Homo sapiens: one gene and its partner. The protein of the gene in region 1 purifies or fractionates together with the protein of each later gene. This does not show direct contact. Each region holds a gene or a part of one and is shown in the gene's direction. Other genes may lie near its edges.

Evidence for each region.
Region 2: the proteins of CCDC83 (region 1) and CCDC50 purify together in Homo sapiens (affinity purification with mass spectrometry; one large-scale study listed by BioGRID and IntAct). This does not show direct contact.

Annotation. Positions count from the first base shown.
Region 1 is NC_000011.10:85,882,791-85,886,614, forward strand, and holds part of CCDC83 (coiled-coil domain-containing protein 83), read left to right. Parts: intron 1-3,409; coding exon 3,410-3,577; intron 3,578-3,824.
Region 2 is NC_000003.12:191,356,619-191,360,442, forward strand, and holds part of CCDC50 (coiled-coil domain-containing protein 50 long isoform), read left to right. Parts: intron 1-469; coding exon 470-532; intron 533-1,379; coding exon 1,380-1,506; intron 1,507-3,824.

The DNA of each region.
Region 1 (3,824 bases):
TCATTACCACCGCAGCCACAAACACATGTAGGTAAATGGGCAGGAGAGGGAAATAATAAAGTGGGTAGAGGTAATGAAGCCAAGCAAGGAGGTGGAAGAAGGGTAGTGATCAGAAACAGATGAAATTTATCTGACTGTTTTTTTTGGGATAGGGTGTAGTTCAGTCACCCAGGCTGGAGTGCAGTGGTGCGATCTCAGCTTACTGCAATCTTAACCTCCTGGGCTCATGCAGTCCTCCCACCTCAGCCTCCCAAGTAGCTGGGACTCCAGGTGCACACCACTATGCCTGAGAATTTTGTTCCTTTTTTGTAGAGATGAGGTCTTGCTATGTTGCCCAGGCTGGTCTCGAACTCCTGGGCTCAAGGGATAGTCCCACCTCAGTCTCCCAAAGTTCTGGGATTACAGGCGTGAGCCACCATGCCCAGCCTCATCTGACTCTTACAACAGGACAGTATCTTGTTAAACACCATTACTCATAGTAGGGTTTTGTTCTTTTTCTTTTTTTTCTTTTTTTTTTTAATTCTGTTGTTTGGTGGTTTCATTGACTTCAGCTTCAGCTTAGATTTGGGAATGATAAGGCAAATAAAACCATGAAAAATGTTTCTCCCAATATCTCTAAGGGAGCCAAGCACCCCATTAGATGGAGGAAATAGGGATTAGCGTTGGGAAAGGGGAAGTTTGGAGAACATGGGTAGTAATGACACTAGGTGCAGGCAATGAAAGACCCAGGGCATACTCTTGCTGTAGGCTTAGGAAATACCATGGTACTGAGGGTAAATCATGCAGTTCTGACATACACATTTTGAAATTCCTATTCTTTCATTCTAAACTTGCTGCTAAGATTTCTAGGACCACTTTTGCCAAAACCTCCATAAATAACATCCCTGCTAGGAAGCTGGAAAACATGAGAAAGAGACCTAAGTGCTATCATTTGTTAGCCCTTAGGAAATCCACGTATTTCTGGATTTCTCCAAGTGCCTACTTAGCTGAGCACTTTGCACACAGCAGGCTCTCCACTCAATAGATATTTGCTGTTTTGAGTGAAATCGTTTCCAAGACCAAACATCAATAGGCAAGTTTCATTTTTAGGGGAGTCCAAAACTGTTCCCATAGACCTCCTCCTACCCAAGTCTCTTCATTGGCAATAGGGATGTCATGACATGGTAGATAGTATATTTTGCATGACTTCTTTCCAAAAGAGTTCTGCTTATATTTGGAAGGAATACTTTAGTAAGTCCCTTGAGATGGAGTGAGACCCCAAAGGATGCTCAGCTGTGCTCGCTAAACTGCCTTCTAAAGGAATGGGCCCAGTTAGTTGAGATGCGCCTGTTGATGGTTTGGGCTGAGCATGGGGATGTGTCATACAAGACTGGGCCACACGGCATGACTGAGCACAATAGAGGAGGACTGGACATGCATGGGAAGAAAGGAAGCTCACAGACATGGAGGAAGAGAGGGAAAGTAAGAGAACAGAAGTGTCTGGAAAACATTTCCGAGGTAGTCACTTTATGTCCCAGGTAGTCCCTTGCAACTCATTTTGGTGTGGAGCAGCAGCAAGTGCTTCACCTATCAGCTTGTTACAATGCCAATTCCCAGGCCCCACCCAGACCTACTGAATCAGAATCCGCATTCTGACAAGATCCCAGGGGATTCCTATGCACAGTAAGGTTTGAGAAATACTGCTGCAACCCTTTTCATCCAACTTTTAGTAAGGACTCTTTCAGTTGCAAGGATAAAAAATCCAAGTCAAACTAGCCTAAGCATAAAGGGGATGTTAGTCTTTTCACATCACTTAACACAGAAAGACAGAGTGCTTCTGACCTGGATACAAGGCTTCACATGCTGTCAGATCTCAGCTTAAACAAACAAACAAAAATCTCTGGGGCGTATGTGTTACTAGAAGGGAAGGGAAGAAGTTCTAAGAAAGTAGAAAAACAGCCACTACATCCATCTCCCTTTTACAATCTTCAGTGACATCTACCAACCCTCCCCTCAAAGGCCAAATGGGGCACTGGCCTGAGACAGTAGCAGTCTGCTCGAATGAGAGAACAACTACCCATCTGGCTTATAGTAGTACTGATAATTGTTTAATGAAAATAACCACCATTTGTTAAGAGATTTTAAATATAGTATCTTGTGGCCAGGCATGGTGACTCATACCTGTAATCCTAGCACTTTGGGATGCCAAGGCGGGCAGATTGCCTGAGGTCAGGAGTTCGAGACCAGCCTGGCCAACATAGTGAATGAAACCCTGTCTCTACTAAAAATACAAAATTAGCCGGACGTGGTGGTGGGTGCCTGTGATCTCAGCTACTTGGGAGACTGAGGCAGGAGAATCACTTGAACCTGGGAGGTGGAGGTTGCAGTGAGCCGAGATCGCGCCACTGCTCTCCAGTCTGAGTGACAGAGCAAAACTCCATCTCAAAAAAAAAAAATTAGTATCTTGTGTACATCTTTGGAAAAAGATGAGTCCTGAGTCCTTCTGGACCTCTGGACTGAAGAATATCACCCTGGCCTGATTGAAATGCTTCAGTCATTCAACAGACATTTATTGAGCGCCAACTAATTGCCAGGCTCTGTGCTAAGTGCTGGATTTACAGAGATGAATATAATGTAGTCTTTCCTTCAAAGAACTCTCAAACAAGGTGATATATGGTGATGAGATAAACAGCCATTAAGTTTGTTGTACTTGACTCTTTTGTAATGCTTCTTTTTCAAAAATATTCAGCAACATGATATTCGGCCTAAAGATTGAATAGAATATCATGTTTAGCAAACAAAGTTTATATCCCTGAAATAGTTCAGTATTTGTACACATTTAACTGGGGAACTTGCCCATCACTCTGGTTTTACCAAAGGGGGGTGGGAAAAGACATGTTATTATGACTATCAGAGGCTATCATTTCATACAAGAGAAATCCAAATAAATGAACTTTAGATGACTGAATCAAACAATTTACTTACAAAAATGGTTGCCAAGGACCTGGGAAGGACACAAGTTGAAATCACTTTTGCTCAGAGGGTATAATGGCCAGAAAAATGACAATTTCCTAATAAAGAATACATATTATACATATTATATGATACACTGTACAAAATAGGACCCTTATCAGGAATGATGTAAACTTGCAGCTTCCTAGGCATATGGGTTGTCTATTACGTCTTTCAATCAACCCTCAAACCACACATCTACTTTGTAGTCAGAAGTTTAATTTTGCTTAGATTTTGAATCAGGGGAGATAGATAAACAACAGTTTGAATAGTTTAGAATTTCCTAAATTTTAGATATAAAATAGTATTTATGAGTTAACAGTATTTTAATATCAGATCTTAACTTCTTAAAACCAGATTGCAACATATAATGGTTACAAGGAAAACAGAAATGACACAGTGTCTTTATTTTCAACAGATATGCGCATGCAAATAAGTAATGCTGAGAAACTATTTCTTGAGAAACTCAGTGAAAAGGAATATTGGGAGGAGTACAAGAATGTAGGGAGTGAACGACATGCTAAACTCATTACCTCCTTACAAAATGACATCAACACAGTTAAAGAGAATGCAGAGAAAATGTCAGGTCAGTTGCAACAAAACTAGTTCAAGTTCAGTAAAAAACATCTTTAGTAGGGCATACATTGATGGAAGAAAAAAGTGCATACTCCCTGAATCATTCATTACTCTGCTGTCAGCACAAGCAGCTGTGAGCCTAAGGGTAAAGGTGGAGGGAGGAAGCAGAAAAATGATCCCAGGACCACCTGTGAAACTGAGAAGGGGAAATAAAGAAATGGGCGGGTGGGGGGCAGTGTGCAGAAGCCCTGTGACCA
Region 2 (3,824 bases), on another chromosome or scaffold:
ACATAAATTGCTGGGAGAGGATCGTCTGAACCACAGGGAAGCATAGATTAGATTTCTTTTAACACCTCTAATTATGCAGTAACTCAGTTCTCTCTCAGTAGCAATATGCAAAGCATGACTGATACGTCTGTTATTTCAGCAGCACTTAACCCTCCATTTATAGAAGTGGATTGGAATTTCTAGACCTCTGGAATCTGATTCTGTAAATGTTCTCACCTCAGGCCAGGGGCCAAGGCTAACCAGTATTTTGTGACACCCTGTGCTTGGCACTAAGCAGGCACTATAGATTTTTGTGACTAAAGACTGCATACTTAACTAGTCACTATTTTATGCATTGAGAATTATAAAGTGTGTCATTCTGAAATATTAGAATTGATTTTTTTTAAAGTAAAAAAAAAAAATCCTTTCCTTTGTATGTTAAAGTATTACTAATGAGCCTTCCTGTCTGTTTTTCCTCCATCTACTCTAGTATGCCGAGATTTTGCTGTCCTGGAGGACCACACCCTGGCTCACAGCCTGCAGGAACAAGAGAGTGAGTAATACCTCTCATTTATGCTCCTTCAGTTTTCTTTTTTTAGTGGTAGCTTGAGGCTGGTTTCTTAGGGCTTAGGTGGGGAGAGAGCACAGTCACTTGGCTTCACCATCCATACATCCTGAAGGATTTCTTTAGGCAAATGATGCCTGGGTGATCAGTGAAGTTTCGGGCATGTTAAGTAAGATAGGCTGCCAGGAATTAGTAGACTGCTGCGTCTGTAGGAGGAAAAAGAGAGGTTTGAACCTTTTTCCTAGCCTCTTGTTGTAGGAGGGACACAATGGTTGTAGATTTATCTGGGGTGCGTAGAAGGAATCTATTCTTGCTCCTAGGATAGGGACTTGAACAGTTTTCCCAGGCAACTGTGGTATAAATGAGATCACATTGTGAATTTTTCTGAATCTTTTTTTCCATGTGGTGATGAAAAGTAAATCTAAGCTATGCATGTTATATTAAAGTACATACTTGTGAATATATGATTTGTGAATTCACATATCAATATAAAATTGACATTTTGAAAAATGCGGTTAATAAATAGAGTGACAACATGTAGTAGTAGAAAGAGCATTGGCCCTGGCTTTAGAATATTTGTGTAGATGTCCTGGCACTGCCACTTTGTTGCCGTGTGACCAAAGGCAAATTATTTAATCTTTTTGATCCTCTTTTTACTTAATGGAAAAGTGGGGATAATAATTCCTTGCTCTTTATTATATATTGTTGTTGAGACAATAAAATGAAGTGATGGATGCAAAGCTGTTGTTATGGTAAAGCTCTTAAGATTATTATGGCATTTATTACTAACAAACCAAGACATTATTCATTCCTGTCCTCAATCTTTTTGTTCCAGTTGAGCATCATTTGGCATCGAACGTTCAGCGGAACCGTTTGGTCCAGCATGATCTCCAGGTGGCTAAGCAGCTCCAAGAGGAAGATCTGAAAGCGCAGGCCCAGCTCCAGAAGCGCTACAAAGACCTGTGAGGATTTGGGAGGTGGGAGGGGTGATGCAAGACTGGTTTTCTCTGTGGAGCTAGCAACCAGGGCAGGGGAGAAGGAGACTACTTCTGTTCCTCTGATTCCTTCTACTGTTAGATTACAAATCTTACCCTGGATGTCTAACAGTTTTTTTGATTTGAAAATGTTTTGTTTTTGTTGGAGCACTTGACCAGGTTTAAGGACATGTTGATGATGGTGTGAATTTTAACATTTTTTAGCTGTTATGACCTTGGGCCAGTTAGTCAACTTCTCTGAATTTATTTTCCTTACCCATAACATGCGGATAATAATCTCTGTCCCCTCTGCCTCATAGTTTCTTTGGGGGATCCAGTGAAATAGTGGACATCAAATAACTTTATGGGTTGTATTGGTTCCTTTACTATGTTCTAGCTGTGTTTGCCGCTCTTACTTTCCTTGCTTTTCAGTACATAGCAGAATGTTCTGAAAAGCTCTGAAGTGTAGACTCAGTTTTTTTCATAACTTCAGTGTCTGACAAAAGTTCTCTCTAGTAGCCTCCTTTAACACACAGATAAACGGAAATGATTATTTCTCAGGTTTCTTTTGGCACAGTGACTTTTATTCTGTTTCAGTGTTATAAAGCTCCCAGGATACATTTCTTCTTTGAGAGTGGCTCTTACATCCTAAATCTTTAATGTGGGTAGATTTAACCACAGATACTGTGTTGAGGAGGAAGGGGTAAAGGAAAAATGGAAGGAACCCCTTAATTTACTTCAGTGTCATATTCAGGTAAAAAGGAAAGCCAGTCATTTTTGCTAACTTATAGGAAGGGTTTGTCTTTCTGTTTATTATTTGTAGAGAGGACTTTATTAATCATTTTGTTAAGCTTCCCTTATTTTGTAAATAAACACTTTTATTGATTCATGCTAAATCTGGCACCATGAAAGGAGACCAGAGATATGAATAAGACAGCTGTTGCCTTTAAGGGCCTCAGGAAAACACCTTGAGCATTGTGTATCTAGAGATACGTGCATGAGTCACAGAGAATTGAAATGTAAATTTCAGGCCTATTTAGAGAGAAGAGACTGGGAAAAGCTTCACAAGACGATGTGTTTAATCTGAAACTTGAAGGTTAATTAGAAGTTTATAGTGATGGGGAAAACCATTCTAGCCAGAAGGAGCAGCATGCATAAGGGCAGGAGGTAAGAGGACTTGGAATCAATCTCACGTTAGCTGCAAGAAGTTCAGTGTTGCTGGAGTGGAGAGTGTATTTACAGGCAGAAGTAGGAAGTGAGGCCAGGAAAGTAGTCAAAAGCTGGATCAAAAGGGTCACGATAAGTTATGTTAAAGATTTCAGGTTTTGTAGATTTTAAATTATAAGGAATGGAGAACCTTTGAAGTAGTTTCAGATTTTCATTTTGGGATCTATTCTGTAGACTAGGTGGGTAAAGGCTTGGAGTGGGCAAGATTTGAAGGCAGCTGTTGAGCAATGGTCAAATTAAGAGATGGTGAGGCTTGAATGAGGACAGTGGTGACAGAGAGGAAGGAGATGATGAGGCCTAAATTGAAGGTCATGGTAATGGAGATGTAAAGAGGAGGAGAGATATTTGAGATGTTATGAGGCTCAGTGTCACAGGTTAAGGTGAGAACCAAAGCTAGAATGTTCTAGAGTTCTAAATTCATTGCCCTTTACATTATTCACAATTCTCTGTTAGAAAGGCCAGTTCTGAGGTTGATGCAGATGTTTAAAATCCTGAATTAGGTTAATAACAGTATAATGAGCTTTTTCAGAAATTATCAAGACAAACCACTCAAATATAAATCAGGAGTAGAGAGTGATATTTTATAGGTCCTAAAGGAGAGAAGAACCGGGTATTATATTTCTGCCTGAGACTTCAAGGTTTTGAAATTGTTCCTGGATGAAATAAGTAAGCTAGAAGGGAAGTCTTTCAGTTCACTCCCTGGCAATTTTAATAGCTGTACATCTTGGGAAGGATGAAATGCTGCAGTTTTCATTGAACTGGAACCTTTTATTCAGTCTGGATACCCGGGCTGCCGTAAGTCAGGATTACCGCTTGTTTACTACTGCTTTCTCAGTTTCGCTTTCCCAGGAGTCTGTATAATTAGCTGACTGAACCAGAGATGGTACTTCTTGGAAATATGGTTTGAAATCATTAAACTCAGATGAAGCTTCACTTATTTATTTTCTGTACCAGGAGATACATCTTCTGTGTCACTTGTGACCTTTAACACTTCATTTGGGTTTGCCTTCTCTACGGTGCTTCTACTTTCTTCCCACTTATTATCACATCCAATGTAGTTATTAGTCAATTAATTCTAT